2 separate regions of the Homo sapiens genome follow, and region 1 is linked to region 2. Evidence: fine-mapped expression QTL. Tissue or cell type: cerebellar hemisphere. Region 2 holds a variant in brackets; the other region holds the start of a gene. All regions are shown on one strand. Distances are from middle to middle.

Region 1 (8,179 bases), 57 kb after region 2:
ATGTACCTAGGATATGTTAAAATCTCTGTGTGACAAAATGGGCATTTGCAAATGGACTGGAAGTCTACTTATGACAGTAACAGATGAAATATGCCTAAAAGCAGAATAGCATTTGATTCTAGGCTTAAAAACAATAAACTTTGATTTTAAAAAATTAAAATAATTTAAATGAGTACTTGCAAATGAAATAAAAGCCAAGACATTTAAAAGGTAAAACAAGACCCCTTACCACTACAAAATTAACTCAAAATGGGTCAAAGTACTAAAGAGCTAAAACTATGAAGGAAACCAGTAAATCTTCATCTCACCTTTAATATGGCAATAATTTTTTAGATATAACACTAAAAGCATAGAAACAAACTAAAAAAGTGGACTTTATCAAAATTAAAAACTTTTTTGAGCCAAAGGACATTATCAAGAAAATGAAGTCTGGGTGTGGAAGCTCATGCCTCTAATCCTAGTACCTTGGGAGGGCTAGGTGGGAGGATTGCCTGAGGACAGGAGGTTAAGACCAGCCTGGGCAACATCATGATACAACATCTCTACATAAAAATAAAATGAAAAATAAAATAAAAATAGGAAATATTTGGGGGGGGGAATAGGGCATAACAATTTTAAAAAGAAAATGAAAAGACAACGTACAGAATGGGAAAATATCTGCAAATCATATATCTGACAAGGACTAGTATCCAGAATATATAAAGAACTCTTACAACTCAACCTCAAAAAGACAAAGAATCAATTAAAAAATGGGCAAAGGACTTGAATAGACATTTCTCCAAAGAAGATTTAGCAATGGCCAATAAACACATGAAAAGATCCTCAACATCATTAGTCTTTAGGGAAAGGCAAAACAGGACCACAATGAGATATCACTTCACACTAAGATAGCTATAACAAAACATAAACAACAGGAAAACAAGAGTTGACAAAGATGCAGAGAAATCAGAACCCTAGTGCATTGCTGGTGAAAATGTAAAATGATGCAGCCACTGTGGAAAACAGTAGTAACAGAACTACTTAATCCAGTAATTCCAATCCCAAGAATATATCCCCAAAATTGAAAACAGGTACTCAAATACATGTACATGCATGTTTGAAGCAGCACTATTCACAATGCCAAAAGGTGGAAACAACCCATATGTCCATATGGGTTGTTCCAGATAAACAAAATATGGTATATACATATGATATGGTTTGGCTGTGTCCTCACCCAAATTTCATCTTGAATTGTACCCCATAATTCCCACCTGTCATGGGAGGGATCCGGTGGAAGGTAATTGAATCATGGGGGCGGGTCTTTCTCCTGCTGTTGTGGTGATAGTGAATAAGTTTTATGAGATTTGATGGTATAAAGGAGAGTTCTGCATAAGCTCTCTTGTCTGCCGCTTTGCTCTCCTTGCCTTCCGCCATGTGGAACTGTGAGTCAATTAAACCTCTTCTCTTTATAAATTACCTAGTCTCGGGTATGTCTTTATTAGCACCGTGAGAACAGTCTAACACAATATACAATGGAATATTATTGAGTCATAAAAAATAATGAAGTATTGATACTTCAATGTGATGCTACAACCTTGTACTGTATCTGCCCGTAAACAAGCTGAGAACAATATACTAAGTGAGAAAAACCAAGACACAAAAAACCCACATATTGTATGATATGAATATGAAATATTCATAATAGGTAAATCCATAGAGACAGAAAGCAAAATGGTGATTGCCAGGGGCTGTGGGAGGGGAGAATGAGAATGACTGCTTAATGGTTGTGAGGTTTTCTTTTGGGTGATGAAAATGTTTTGTAACTAGATAGACATGGTAGTTGTACAGCATTGGGAATGTACTTAATTGCCACTGAATTCTACATTTTCAAGTGGCTAATTTTACAATATGTGAATTTTGCCCTATTTTTAGAAAAGTTGGGAAGGAATATGATAGCTGCCTTAAAAATCTATCATATGAAGATAGATTTTTTTTTTCTGGATAGTTCCGGAGAGCAGAATCAGGGGAAGTTACAGTAAGACAACTCTGAAATAATAAGGAAGAACTTTCTAACAATAGGGCTGTTAAACAGTGGAATGCGCTGCCTCCCAAGGAAGTAAGATTACTTTTTACTGAAAGTGATCAAGTTGGATGATGAGCTCTCAGGGAAGTTACAGAGAGGATTGCTGCACGGGGTATGACTGAGGTTTTTTTTTTTTTGGTTTAATTATTTTCAGGATCAAACTATCTTCCCTCCACGTTTGCAAATTCAGCTGATTCAGTTTTACCATTAGCAACTGACATAGAGGTCCTGGAGTTAAAGTATTCCTTCAGTTTCAGTTCTAGTGCAGCCCAACCCTCCCAATTTGTAGATGAAACAAGTGTGGCAGAGAAAGGGGAAATAGTAAATTACAGCAGAGTAAATCTTCAGGAGCTGAGATGTCAACTCTCTCAGTTCAGAGTTGGAGCCATTGCGGCTTCCTGCTGGTCGTTGGGGAAAATCGCACATTTACTCATTTAAAATATTTTGTAGGCACCTACTATATACTAGACGCTTTGCTAAGAGGCCTTGTCTTATGTGTAAATATGAAGGATCAAACCCTCAATTAATAGTGAGCAGTGATAAGCAACCACAAAGACAACTTCTAAACCACGGAGATTTCCAAAACTTTGGTCTACCACTTGTACAAATTCTACTAAAACTTCGTGAGATATTAACAAATGACAAAGTGAGTTCACCTGAATGTCACACCAGCCAAATTCGAAATGGTCAATAGGAGGTTCAACAAAAAAGCAAGCGACTTTGATAATCCCGAGACGGAAGGACGGGACCATCTATTCATTTTTGTGCATGTTTGAGCAGGGAAGTTGGAAGTCCACCTGCTCGGGCTGCGAGAGCCCTGGGACCGCTGCGAGGGAAGCAAGCCGAGGCGTGCGGGGCTCCCCAGGGAGAGGCCAGCCCAGTTCGGGAGGATCCCGGGGATGCCGCGTTCCTCGGTGGAATCTGGCTCTCCCGGGCGCTCCGGGGGAAGCCCAGGCCGACCGCCCCCGGCCCACCCGGCATTGAAACCCGAGGCTCCTTGGAGGATTGCGTAAAAGCCTCTCCCTCCCCCGTCTGCTCGGTGGCATGTTTCTAAAATTCCCATCTACACAACATAAACAGGAAACGTGCAGCAAAAGCCCTGTCGATGCAAATTCCTTGCTTCCAACCGAGGGCGGGAGAATTTCATCTTTGGTGGTGGTGGGGAGCAGAGGAAGCAGCCAGCTTTCCAAGTGACCCCTCAACTCTCCACATCCCTTCTTCCAAATCCAAACAGAATAGAGAAGGCGGAAGGAAGGACCCCCTGCTTTAGGAAAAATAGGGAGGCAGAGGGGGCCGTGAAGCAGCATCCAGGCCTCAAAGTGAACCACCTCCAGGGGCCGCGGTGGCGGCGCGTGGCGGGAACACGCCCGACCGCCCACTCCCCCAGCGCAGCAGTCCGCGAGGCCCGCGGAGGGTGGAGGTGGGCTCGCCGCCCGGGCTTGGGGCAGCCGAGCCAGCGCGGGTGGGGGCGGGGGAGGAGCGGGCACTAGGCGCCGCGCAAGCGCAGAGCGCGCCTCGGTTGTCAAACATGGCTGAAGCGCTGCCGCTGCCGCTACTGCCGCTGCAGGGAAAATGCTGAGCCCTCCCGGGCCGGGTGGGCGGCGGCGGCGAGGGCGGCGACGGGGACCCGCTTCCCGAGCGCGGCGGCGGCGGCCATGGCCCGGCTGGCTGACTACTTCATCGTGGTAGGCTATGACCACGAGAAGCCAGGTAAGGGTGTGGGGCGGCACCGCCCCCGGGCCTCCCCGCCCCCCGGCCGCTGTCCAGTGGGCTCCGCGGGGCCGGGCGTCGGGGACGGGCGTCGGGGAGGGCCAGGCCGAGTCTCGGAGGAGCGGGCGGTCGGCGTCCGGCCTTCTCGGCTGGGCTGAGCCTGGCGGTGGGCGTGGGGGGGCCGGCACGACGGTAGGGGGAGGGAAGACGCCGCGTCTGCCCAGCCCCTGGGCGCACCCGCTGGGCGGGCCGGAGGCGAGTTGGGGTCTCGCGACCCTCCCGCTGGAGGCTGCAGGGTACCCGGGGCAGAGAGAGCCCTGAGATTGGGCCCAGGACCGCAAGGCTGGGAGGGCGGGAGCCAACTGTGCTAAGTTCCTCGGGGATAAACTTCTGCCCTGCATCCTGAGTGAGTAACCAGTGACGCAGGGGGTTGTCCTCTCCGAAAGGAAGTGCTGAGAGTCCAGTGCTAACTCACCCCTGTGCTGTTGGGGGCCTAGTGACCTCCCCAAGGAACGCGTGGTACCAGGGAAGGGGACAGGATTCTTTGCACTTTTACCCCTTTCTAGGAAATGCTCCCTATTCTTTCAGGACAAATGTGACGGTCACTTCACAGTGACATGACTTGTCTTTTAACTAAGGACAGCCAGCTGACCGCTGAAGGTGATCTTGTTTCACTTTAATGTGTTTTCATTGTTCTTTTTATTTGTCACAGAATTTTCGTCGTAAGGAACAATTGGGCAAATGCATTGTATTTTACACTTTAATTGACGGACTTCCACAACTTAAGAGAATTCAGGGTTCATGCACGTTTATTTCTGTATTTGTATTCTCTTGTATTACTATGTAGCTAAGCATAATGTAATAACAAATTGAGCTGGGAAACCACTTCTATTTTAGGGCAATTCTAGTCCCACATTTGCAAGGAATTTGAGATATCAGCTCTACAGCCCCTTCATTTTTCAGAGATGCTGAGATTGTGTTTTCCTGATGGTTACAGCCATTGGTAGCTCAGAATACCATTGTTCTACCCACTCTTGGTCCACTCTCTCTTTCATTATTCCTCTCCTAAGAACTTCCTCTCCTTTAGTGGGAACCTTTCATGTTCTTTTCTCTTTCACCAGTCATGACCTGATTGAGGTCAATTGTTAAAGAGAAAGTTTAAATGTTTAAACTTCTGGATCCAAAATTTTATTTCCTAGTAATTTGGCATAGTCTGATGTTTCTTTTCTATCAAGATTAAGTGTGGGAAATCAGTTTTTTAACCTTTAGTTTTTAGTGACATTGTTCCGCCTCCCCCCCTCCCCACTTTTAAACAATTTTTTTTTTTTTTTTTTTTGAGACGGAGTTTTGCTCTGTTGCCCACGCTGGAGTGCAGTGGTGCGATCTTGGCTCACTGCAACCTCTGTCTCCCGGGTTGAAGCAATTCTCTGCCTCAGCCTCCGGAGTAGCTGGGATTTACAGGCGCCCGCCAACACGCCCGCTAATTTTTGTATTTGTAGTAGAGACGGGATTTCACCATCCTGGCCAGGCTGGTCTTGAACTCCTGATCTCGTGATCCACCGGCCTCGGCCTCCCAAAGTGCTGGGATTACAGGCTTGAGCCACCACGCCCGGCCAACAATGTTGAAACAATAACAGACTTGCAAAAAAGTTGCAAGAATGGTACAAAAAATTCTACCCGCCCCCCAACAATTTGAGAGGAAGCTGTTGACCTGATGCCCTGTCATCCCAGAATACTTTAATGTGCATTTTCTGCAAACAAGAATGTTCTCCTACATGATCACAGTGTAATAACCAAAACAGGAAATGGATAGTGATACAGTACTCCATCTAGTTCTCAGACTGGTTCAAGTTTTGTTGATTGTGCTAGTAATCTCTTTACTGGCAAAAGGATCCAGTTTAGCAATATGTGTTGCATTCATGTTATGTCTCTTTTGTCTCCCTCAATCTGGAACATTTCCTTTATCTTCTCCTGACTTTCATGACCTTAACATATTTAACAATTACAGGTCAGTCACTTTGTAGGCTGCCCCCTCAATTTGGGATTGTCTGTTCCTTCATGATTAGATACATACGAATATGCACGTGGGAAGGATATCACAGAAGTGATGCTCACTGCATCCTGTCAGGTGGTGCACAATTTCACTTTGTTTCATTGTTGGTTATTTTTACTTTGATTACTTGATATAAGTAATATCTGCGAGGCTTCTCCACTGTAAAGTTAATACTTAATTGTTTTTGCCATGTACTTTGAAACTATGTAAATATCTTGTTCCTCACTAAACTCTTAATCATTTATTGACATCTACATGGAGTCTGTGTGTGTGTGTGTGTGTGTGTGTGTGTGTGTGTGTGTGTTTAGTGGATTATATTCTGTTACTATTTGCCTTAGTCTATTCGGAAAAAGTCACTAGCCCACCTGCCCGAAGCACTGGCTTGAGTGGGAAATAGGAGAGTCTAAGCACATCCAGCCGAAGTGAGACCAGAAAGGGGAGCTCGCGGATTATATTCTGTTACTATTTGCCTTAGTCCATTCGGGCTGTTATAACAAAAATACCTCAAACTGGGTGGCTTATAAACAATAGAAATTTATTTTTCACAGTCTGGAGGCAGAGAAATCCAAGATGAAGACTCTGACAGATTCAGTGTCTGGTGAGGACATGCTTCCTCATAGCCATGTTCTCACTTTAACCTCATATGGCTTAAGGGTCAAATGAGCTCTCTGGGGTCTCTTTAAAAAGGGAACTAATCCCATTCACAAGGACTCCACCACCATGACCTGATCACTTCCTAAAGGCCTCACCTCATAATACCATCACTTTGGGTGTTAGGATTTTAACATACGAATTTTGGGAGGGGACATACACATTCAGACTATAGCATTATTTATTTTGATGTTCAAATTGTTCTTTATATGGCCAATGAGAGTTGTACAAGCTGGCTTCTGTGTTCTTATGGTACATCCCCATCACTCTTTGAGAACAACTTTGTACTTTTTGGCACAAGAACCTGTTCCTGGCTCATCTTGTACTTTCCATGCCTTGGTTCTGTAATCAGCCATTTAGGGATCCCTGGTTCCTTTTAGTGGAGAATGACATTTAGAAGCTAAGATCTCAAGGCTAGTGTGTTTATTGCTGTTGGGCTGTTACTCCTTCCAGGTCCTGTTAATGGTCAGGGCTGGTAAGTATAGGTATGTATGCATAAACATACATATGCATTTATATCTATATTTATTTATTATCTCTGTATATTGAAAACTATGAATTCATACTGATACCTCCAATTTCAGTCAAATAGTCCAGGATCTATTCTAGTGTTCTCCTTTTTCATATTGTAACGTTCTTCTCTGACAGTGAGAAATCTGGCTTCTGTTATCCTGAATGTATTTACTTATTGTTCAGTCTCCCATCTTCACTACCATCTACTCCTCTCCCTGCTGGGACTTGGATTCTTCATTCCATCTCCTCCATCCCCCTACCCCAGTCTGGATCTAAGAGTCCATACCAGCATGCTTCCATACAGGGACACCCTCCCCAGCACTCTGGTTATGACTCCTCATGTTGGTCTCCCCACTGTCGGTGGACACACTTCGTACCCCACTCAGACTCTGACACACCCCAGTGAGTTGCTTCCATTGGAAGATATCCTTCTCACTCTGTTGTACCCCAGTGCCCTTTGCCAGTTTCCCCCTCCTGCCTTAATGCTTGGGCTCTGAAGCAAAATGTTTGCCTCTTCCCCTACCACACAGACTCCTTCCCTAGCTCTCTTGGTCTATGACAATATGACAAGCTCCACCCCAGGGATCCACCTCCACCCCAGGGGTACCATGACAACTGCTCTTCTCACAGCAGGAAAAGGGAAGGAGAAGGAAGATTAATTTTTTAAGTAATACAATCCAGAAGCTTGTATAAATTGTAGAATGTCAACAGTGAAATGTATAACTTTTTAACTTGGGATAATTCTTCTTTTGTCATGTTGATGGCAGCGAAGAGGTGCGGGCGGTGGTGTCAGGAGCGGCTATGGGAGCAGCAATGATGCTGGTGGGTCCCCTGTGCCCTGCATCCCTGAGGCAGCCGACTGTACTGCCCCCGCCCTTGTGCCTCTGGGCAGGACCTGCCCTCAGGCCCGGAGCCTCCCCAGCTCCTGACCCTGGCCCTGTGTCACCACTCTTGCCCACCAATGCTGCGGGGAGGGTGTGAGGAGGAGGCGGAGCTGGAGGTGTGATATGGGGGTCTGGGGCCGGAAGTGGGAGCAGTGCCTGCTTCAGGGACCCAGCCAGCAGCGTGGTCACCACACCCACCCTGCCGAGGGCACCGGGTTCCTGTGCCTCAGGGGTAGGCTCTGAGCAGGGCCGCCTAGGGCCGCATCCCTGGGGTCCACCCTGCATCAGGGTGATTGCCAGGCCTGA
Region 2 (8,179 bases):
CACTCGGGCGGGGCTGACTCCAGTGGTATTTCCAGTACCCCATAAACTCACAGAACTTCTGAACACGAAGGAATCTCAAAGATCGATCAATTAAATTTATACTGGAAATGTAGCTACGATCATAGCTATGAATTGAATTTATTTATTTAGTGAGATCTGACTATAATAGTATGTCCTTTATAGCTGAATGAAGTAGACATTAGTGTCTAATAGAACTCAAGTATGTCAGACTTCACCAGTTTGTAAACTCATGCTTCTATTTAATGCACCATCATTGTAGCTTGAGCCTCATCCTACTTGACTTCGTGAAATCAGGATTTTATCCAATTCCGCTGGGGAACACTTACGTGGTCCACCCATTTCCTCTGTACTTTTCATCTCTGCCAGCTGCCTGGCCCCACATGGGGGACTCCTATGTCTGAACACCTGCTTCCTTCAGGGTACAACTTTCCTAACTCCACTGTTGTGCCCCAGCATGGGCTGTACAGACTCCTCCACCATTTCCCTGTTGTGATAAAGCAGACTAGGCTGAAACTTTTAACAAGACATTACCAAAGGCTTGGAGAGAAAAGAGAATTACAACAGAGAGAAACTTGAAACTCAGTACCTTTGCCCAGATTCCCCAGTCTCTGGGTTTGACTTCTACATTGCTCTCTACTGCTGCCATGGAGGAAGGGCCAGCCTGCCTCCCCACAGTGGGAAGATACTTCATTCTACAAATCCTTGAGGTTCAGATCAAGGAGGCAGTTATTTCCCTCACACTTCAACCTAAGCTCCATGTCCTTAGTCTTTATTTCCTGCCTTAGGATTGATCGTGTTCCAGGAGGCCTGAGAATTAATGTGTCTATTTCGTGGAAAACTCCAACTTCTAAACAATAACATAACAAGCATTCTAACCATAGAACACTGTGTGTGATAATAACAGCCCAGTCAATGCTGAGTCCCATAAAGCCCAGTTAAGTTCTTTTCCCCATTCTCTCCTCTAGCATGAGTCTATGATCATGGTTATACAGTTGTCTAGCCATCTTCAGTGTCTCAGCTCTTGAGTTTCTATGATTGTCTAGTTGGAAAATGGCTTATTCGGCCTGGCATAGTGGCTCACGCTTGTAATCCCAGCACTTTGGGAGGCTAAAGTGGGCCAATTGCTTGAGCCCAGGAGTTCAAGACCAGCCTGGGCAACATGGCAAAACCTCATCTCTACAAAAAATACAAAAATTAGCTAGTCATGGTGCCCCTATAGTCCCAGCTACTCAGGAAGCTGAGGTGAGAGGATCGCTTGAGCCCAGGAGATTGAGGCTGCGGTAAGCAGAGATCATGCCACTGCACTCCAGCCAGGGCAACAGAACAAGACTCTGTCTCAGAAAAAAAGAAAAATGGCTTATCCGTTAAAAAATTTTCAAGAGCAAGCAATAATAAAGTGACAAATGGCATTGTAAATACATAGGAAATTTTAGGCTGGGCATGGTGGCTCTCACCTATAAAGCCAGCATTTTGGGAGGCTGACGTGGGAGGATCATTTGAGCCCAGGAGTTTGAGACCAGCCTGGGCAACATAGTGAGACTCCATCTCTGCAAAAAAATAAAAATAAAAAAAATAGCCAGGCATGGTGGCACATAACTATACACCTAGCTACTCAGGAGACTGAGATGGGAGGACTGCTTGCGCCCAGGAGGTCAAGGCTGCAGTGAGCCATGATTGTGTCACTGCACTCCAGCTTGGGTGACAGAGCCGGACCCTATCTGAAAAGAAAAGAAAAGAAAAGAAAAGAAAAGAAAAGAAAAGAAAAGAAAAGAAAAGAAAAGAAAAGAAAAAGAAAAAGAAAAAGGAAAGAAAAAGAAAAGAAAAGGAAAGAAAAAGAAAAAAGAAAAGAAAAAGAAAAGAAAAGGAGGGAAGGCAGAGAAGGGAAGGAGACAGACAAAGAAAAAGAAAGAGAAAGAAAGATAAAATGCTCCAAATAAAACCTTTTGAAGAGATCAACTCTGCCTAATATGTTGACATTTTACACAATTTTGCCAAACATTTTAGTTATTGGAGTCATAGTAGCAGAACTTCCCCCATCCCAAGGTAAGATTTTTTTCTCTATATTTGCATACGGCCTATAAGAAGCATTTTCTGAGACGTTTCCTCTTTTTAGAAACACAAAAATGTGTACGGATTACAAATGACAGTTCTTTTTCAGTCTCTACTTACTTCTCAAGTGATCCAAAAATATTTGGGTCTAATCTCAGCCAAGTTCACCTTGTTATATCCACTTTATGGACAAAGGAAGCTGAGGTTCTATGAAATCCAATTTACTGAATTACACAATTAGAAAATGGGGCTGGGAATGGTGGCTCATGCCTTTGGGAGGCCAAGGAGGGAGAATCACTTGAGCCCAGGAGTTAGAGATCAGCCTGGGTAACACAGGGAGACCCCATCTCTATAAAATATAATAATAATAATTAAAAAAATAAAACAATAGAAAATGGGAAGGCTGAAATTCAGAACACCAGCTGCCCTGGACGCTCTGGCCCTTGCAACTATACCAGGCCACACTTGATCTAAAAGGAAATGTTACATATCACAAAAACATGCGTTGTGAAGACCAGCCAAGCATACAACAAATCAGTCCCATTCAGTTTGGGATTACAAGCCGGACGAACAATAGAGCAGGCTTCAAAATAAACTTCCGTTTCCAGGATGAGAAGGAAACATAGGGACATAAGCTCTTAGGAGACACCTGCAGTGAGCAGGGACCTGCGCCAGAGAAAGGGTATAAAGCGGAGCCTGAAAAGAGGGGACTCCGAGGAAGACACCGCATTCATTCTTCCATCCCACAAACTTTCGCCAAGTGAGTCCTTTGTGCCCGGCTTTGTGCTTGGCTTTGTGCTACGCAGCAGGCACAGGCTGATGAATCAGTTAGAGGCGCCTGCCCCCTTGGGCCTCACAATCTGATAGAAGGGACAAACAAGTAAATATAGAACCTGCATTCCTCTCATTCAAGTGAAAAGGACATCCTGATTAAAATATCTATGGCAGCTCTGAGAACATTCGTGCCCAATCACAGTAAGGGCCTGAACTGATTGTCATTTCCTTTGTTTAACCAATTCTCTTACACCTGGAGTAGAATCCCTGGGGCCAGCCCGGCTGGGTACCCAACGTGATCCCTCCAGATCTCTGGAGCAGCTCGCCTTCCTCATAATCATTTTACCCTGG[G/C]ATGTTTCAGCCTTTGAGGTACAATGTGTGACTAAGGCCACTGTCAACAGGCAATGACACAAAGCATCTGTCGTCTGGCAAAGACCAGCTGAGCAAATGCTTAACTCAGAAGGCTGCTACAGTTTTTGTGAAAACAAATTACATCAGCGCCTAACCCGGGAGTCTCCCAACCAGGCTAAAGGGTGTTTTCTTTGGTGAGCGTGTGTGCTCCTACCTCACACAGCATGAAGGAACTCTGCCTAGAGTGAAGTGGCACAAAGTCTCCATATCTCAGAGCTTGGTGATACCATCAAGAAGACTCCTTGCAAAATCGGCTTAGCAAGGAGGCAGACATTCTGAGACTTCCCGGCATGCAAAGAGCCCCGTGCTGTGGGAAGGGACACACACGAGGTCAGCCAAGGTCATGGGCTCCCAAGGAAATATTTACTGATTAGCTTCCGTGGGCCAGGTGCTGGGTGGAGATTTAACTTACCTTATCTCATTTAATTATACCCCAAGTATGCTCAGCCCCATGGCCTTACTCTGGACCTGCCTTAAGGCCAGCACTTCACAAAGATACCTTTAAAGCAATAGTGAATAATGCAGATTCTACCACTGACTCCATGGGGACATAGAAGGGACATTTATATTGCAGACCACAGGTAAATATTAATCTTCAAGAGATCTATTGTACAACACGGTGACTATAGTTAATAACAATGTCTTGCATTCTTGAATATTGCTAAGAGAGTAGATTTCAAGTGTTCCCACCACAAAAAAAAAGTACATGAGGTAACGCATATGTTAATTAACTCAATTTAGCCACTCCACAATGTATACAAATTTCAAAAATCATGTTGTACACAATAAATACATACAATTTTATTTGTCAATTAAATACATAGATAAATTTGAAAAAAATACTTAGTTTAACACCTCCATTGTCTTCTCCCTTCTCTCCCTTTCCATTCTCTCTAACTTCCCTGTGACAGTTTCCTCTCTCTCTCTTTCTCTCTCTCCCTATTTCTCTCTCTGCCTCCCCATATACACAGCTTCTTCAAAATCCCCTCCACGTCTTCCCCTGTCACTTGCCTAACCCCGCACACAAAAGCCTAATCATAGCCAAAAGGCAAGAATATCCAATTACTCCTTAAGCAAAATCCTTGTGAGCCTCAGTTTGTCTCATTCATTCATTTAACAAATAGTTGTCAAGTGCCCAGCACTGTTTTGGGTGCAGGAGATTAGCAGTGAACATGATAGACAAAAATATCTGCCCTCATGTAGCTTCCATAATCCTTATAGCAATCCATTTTTACATATTAAAAAAACAGAGGTTTGGACTCAATTTATCCAACAGAGTCAGACACTTGGGGCCCAGGGGCAAATTCCAGCCCAGAGAAAGCATTTAGCAGGACCCAATGAGGGCTTCAGGGGCCCAGTCAGCACTCTGGAATCTGGTGGTGAGACTGGGTGCCTAGAGCCTGGAGAATGAGGGGAAGGGACTCAAGTGTCATGTTACAAGGACAGCCCTTGGAAACAAATACATTGGGTTCAAGTTCAAGCTTAGCTACTTACTTGGACTAGTTACTTAATTCTCTCCAAGTCTTAGTTTTCTCATCTATAAAATGGGGACAAAAATTAAACTTACCTTAAAGACTGTGATTACATGTATACACACTGTGTATATATATACACAGACACAATCATTAAATTCTCAGAACCCTATGTTGTGCTAAACATCATATATGTGTATGTGGTCTAACAGAGTAAATGCTGTAAATATTAGTTACCACTTATTTATTTATATTTGTAATTATTATTAGGTATAAAAATGGGTCTACTTAGTAATAGAGCCCCATAATTTGTCAGCCCAGCTCCCTTCTTTTTCTGGGAACAGACTTTCTCACAATCACCTCCCCACCCATCCCCAACCTCCTGATCAACCAACTCTATCCATGACGTCTCCATGGAAGCCACATGTTGGTACAATATGACCTCTCCCCCAGGCACTTGAAGCAAGCTTGACATATCAGAGTCCTTTCCCAGAAAGCTTGCCACTGGAATAGGAAAGAAATTAGTCTCCAGGTAGCTAAAGCTGTTACTACTAGCAGCCATGTTTTCAGCCACATGAACTGAGGAGCAGAAATCAGTCTGCAGTAAGAACAAAGAATGAAATTGGTGTGCAAATAGATAGAAGTGGAGACAGGATATGGGGAGCTGTACCAGCATTTGAGGGCTGGTTCCACTTCATTGAGTTCCAAGAGACAATTCTGTAAGTAAATACCTCATTTTTCTCAAGCTGGTTTGATTTAGGACATTATGCCTTGCCATTAATGAGTCTTAACTAACTACAGGTCTAATCCAGCAGACTTGGCCTTGATATATGGGTCATACCAGCCTCTAAGAGAACTTCTCTGAAGAGAAATTCAATTTCTCCTTAATAGTCAGGATCAGTTATCCCAAGCCAGTTTAGTAGCCCTCTCTTTTTCCTGTTGATTCACTGGCATGATGAGCCCATGTGGCCAGGTGGTCATCTTCACTTCCAGGTTAATGATACAGTTGCTGTGCTCCCTGGAGGAAATATTATTCCTCTGAAAACCAAGACTTCTAAACCAGCAGAGCCTAAAGTTCTAGAGATAGGAAGATAAAATTTCATAGTGGATGACTAAATTTAATAATAAGAAGAAACTCTCTCATTTCCACTCCTTCATTCCTGAACCCAGAAAAATTGGCTATAGGAGAAACAGCAACATATGTTGGTCACTAATTTAGGACATACGCTACATACTAGGGGACACTGCCCCAGCTCTACAAGGTGTTTCCACCCAGCTGGCCCTGTAACTATGCCTTCAAAAGGTCATTCTACCACTTTATCAGGACAGCTGCTTCGAGGTAATGGGGTATTTTGCAAGACTAGTGAATTCCATGAGCGTGAGCCCATTACCACACTTCATTTGCTGTGAGTTCCCTGGTCAAAAGCAATGCTCTGTGAAACACCATGTGAATAACACATTCTGTAAATCCCTGGATGGTGGTTTTGGAAGAAGCATTGTGAGCAGGAAAAACAAATCTTTATCCAGAGTAAGTGTCTATTCATTCCAGTGAGAACAAAGTTCTGTCCCTTCCATGATGAAAGTGATCCTTTATAATCAACTTTTCACCAGGTGGCTAAACTGGTACTCCCAGGGAATGGTGCCAAATAAATGCTGTGTTGATGTCTGCTGTTGGCAGGTTGGACACTCAGCAGCGGTGATTCAAAGTCCATGTTGCTGAGCCCCCAGATAGCCCTATGGACCATTTTATGTGGCTTCCATAGAACAAAAAAGGGGAACCTGGGGAAAGAGGGTAACAAATGTTCACAAAACCAGCAATCTCATCCACCTACTTATTAAGATCTTCTTCTGATAAGATTGCTGTTTGGTGAGCATTCACATGGGATATACTATCTTCCCATTCCGTGCAAATTCGTAACATTCTACCTACAAACCTCTTTCTCAGCTCTCCCTGCCACCAGGTTTTTAATCATGATCCTTTTAAGGTTTGACCATCCAGCCAAACCATTAGCCGCTACCCTAAGTCAATATAGATTCATACTGTCCACTGGGAAGATTTTCCTTCACCCTGTCTTTCAAGGCCATGCTGTGGTGGAACTGCAACGGTACAACCACCTACTTTTGGGTAGTGCCAGCATATTGGACAGAACCATCTTTAAACAAGGCCTGGAATTTTTCCTCTTCAACCAACTTGTTACAGGGAACTACCCAAAAAGACACAGATGCAGGTTGAGAGGGAAGAGAAATTAATTAACATAGATTTCAAATTGATACAGATAATAATAATAGATAACATTTACTTAATATGTAATGTGTACCAGACACAGTTCTAGATGCTTTACATGTATTATCTCCTTAATTCTCACAATAACATTCCCATTTTATAGATGACAAAGTGAGGCACAGAGATTTAGTAACCTGCTCCAAATCACATAGTCATTAGGTGGCAGAGTTGGGATTAGAACCCATACCTTCTCATTCTAAAACCTGTCATGCAATTCTGCCTCCCATGATAAAACAAATTTGCATATGTTTTTGCAAGTTACACTGTAAACTCCCAAAATTAATACTTTGATTGCCATAGGAATCCTAACCCTGGAGCTGTGTCTTTTCAACAGAGGGTTATTTTAATACACATTTTTAGATATGATAACAGGTGCAATAGGGCTGCTGGAAATGTTATGATGTGCCAATTTCAACGGCTCTTAGATCTCAATGTGATTTTCAACTTAAAATGAAACAACACAGGACAAAAAATATGATGCTTGTTATTCAAAGATAATGTCTCTTCAACAGAAACTACCTTCAAACAACTGAAACTTAAGGCAAGAACTCAAAGAAGAGAACTTCACTACAAAAAAATTGAGAGTTTCCACATGTTGAAGCCCAGAAACATCATTTTCAACATCCTCTGTCTCTCACAGTTAAATAATCATAGACAAAAAGTTGTATACACGGTTTAAAACACCTGAAGTGGAAAATTAAACTGTATCAATGAAATATTATTTTCCTGATATTTCAGACTACAAAAGGCAGGCTGGAAGTTATAGTTTGGATGCTAAAACATTGATATTTTCCAGGTGTTCTGGTGGCTTATGGAGATAGAAAACTTGAAGTCAGCACTGTCCTGGTTTTTCTAACTTATATGGCAATGTCACCTCTCTGGCCTCACTTGAATAGCCCCTGGAAGGATTTTTGTAATAGAAAACTAATATGCATTTGTAGATGCAGAGAAGAAATTTTGAAGAAAGAGGTACAGCAATCTGAGGATTATGATTCTGCTAGGGATGGGAGTAGAGATGAAGCTGGTTGGAAATGGGAGAACTTACGTGCTTCAATTTTTTGAATATAGCTTCAAAACATGTATTAATTACAAATGTATCCAGCTGGGAATAACAAAAAATATTAAAAACCAAAACAGGTGGTTTAAACCACTGGTTCTTAATCTGGGC

Which allele goes with the higher level. Positions count from the first base shown, and alleles are read on the strand shown. Sizes are in standard deviations (SD) of each study's normalised expression.
For the expression in cerebellar hemisphere of the gene that starts at base 3,568 in region 1, allele C in region 2 goes with a higher level than allele G (moderate effect, 0.40 SD a copy in GTEx).

What was found. PIP is the estimated chance that this variant, and not a neighbour inherited with it, causes the effect.
Region 1: it holds the start of SBF2, and the variant in region 2 is fine-mapped to the expression of SBF2 in cerebellar hemisphere (GTEx, PIP above 0.99).

The regions. Positions count from the first base shown.
Region 1 is chr11:10,289,608-10,297,786 of GRCh38, reverse strand. SBF2 (SET binding factor 2) reads left to right here and starts at 3,568. Exons shown (of 40, transcript NM_030962.4): 1 at 3,568-3,772. The coding sequence starts at 3,718. RefSeq lists silencers at 3,431-3,480, 3,601-3,880, 3,911-3,990, 4,031-4,170.
Region 2 is chr11:10,347,025-10,355,203 of GRCh38, reverse strand. All of the region lies in intron 2 of CAND1.11 (a long non-coding RNA gene), which reads right to left. Among named protein-coding and RNA genes, the nearest start is that of CAND1.11, 43 kb to the right of the region's middle. RefSeq lists enhancers at 684-1,214, 1,215-1,746, 2,278-2,809, 2,810-3,340, 2,051-4,007. The variant G/C (reference allele first, on the strand shown) is at 3,196.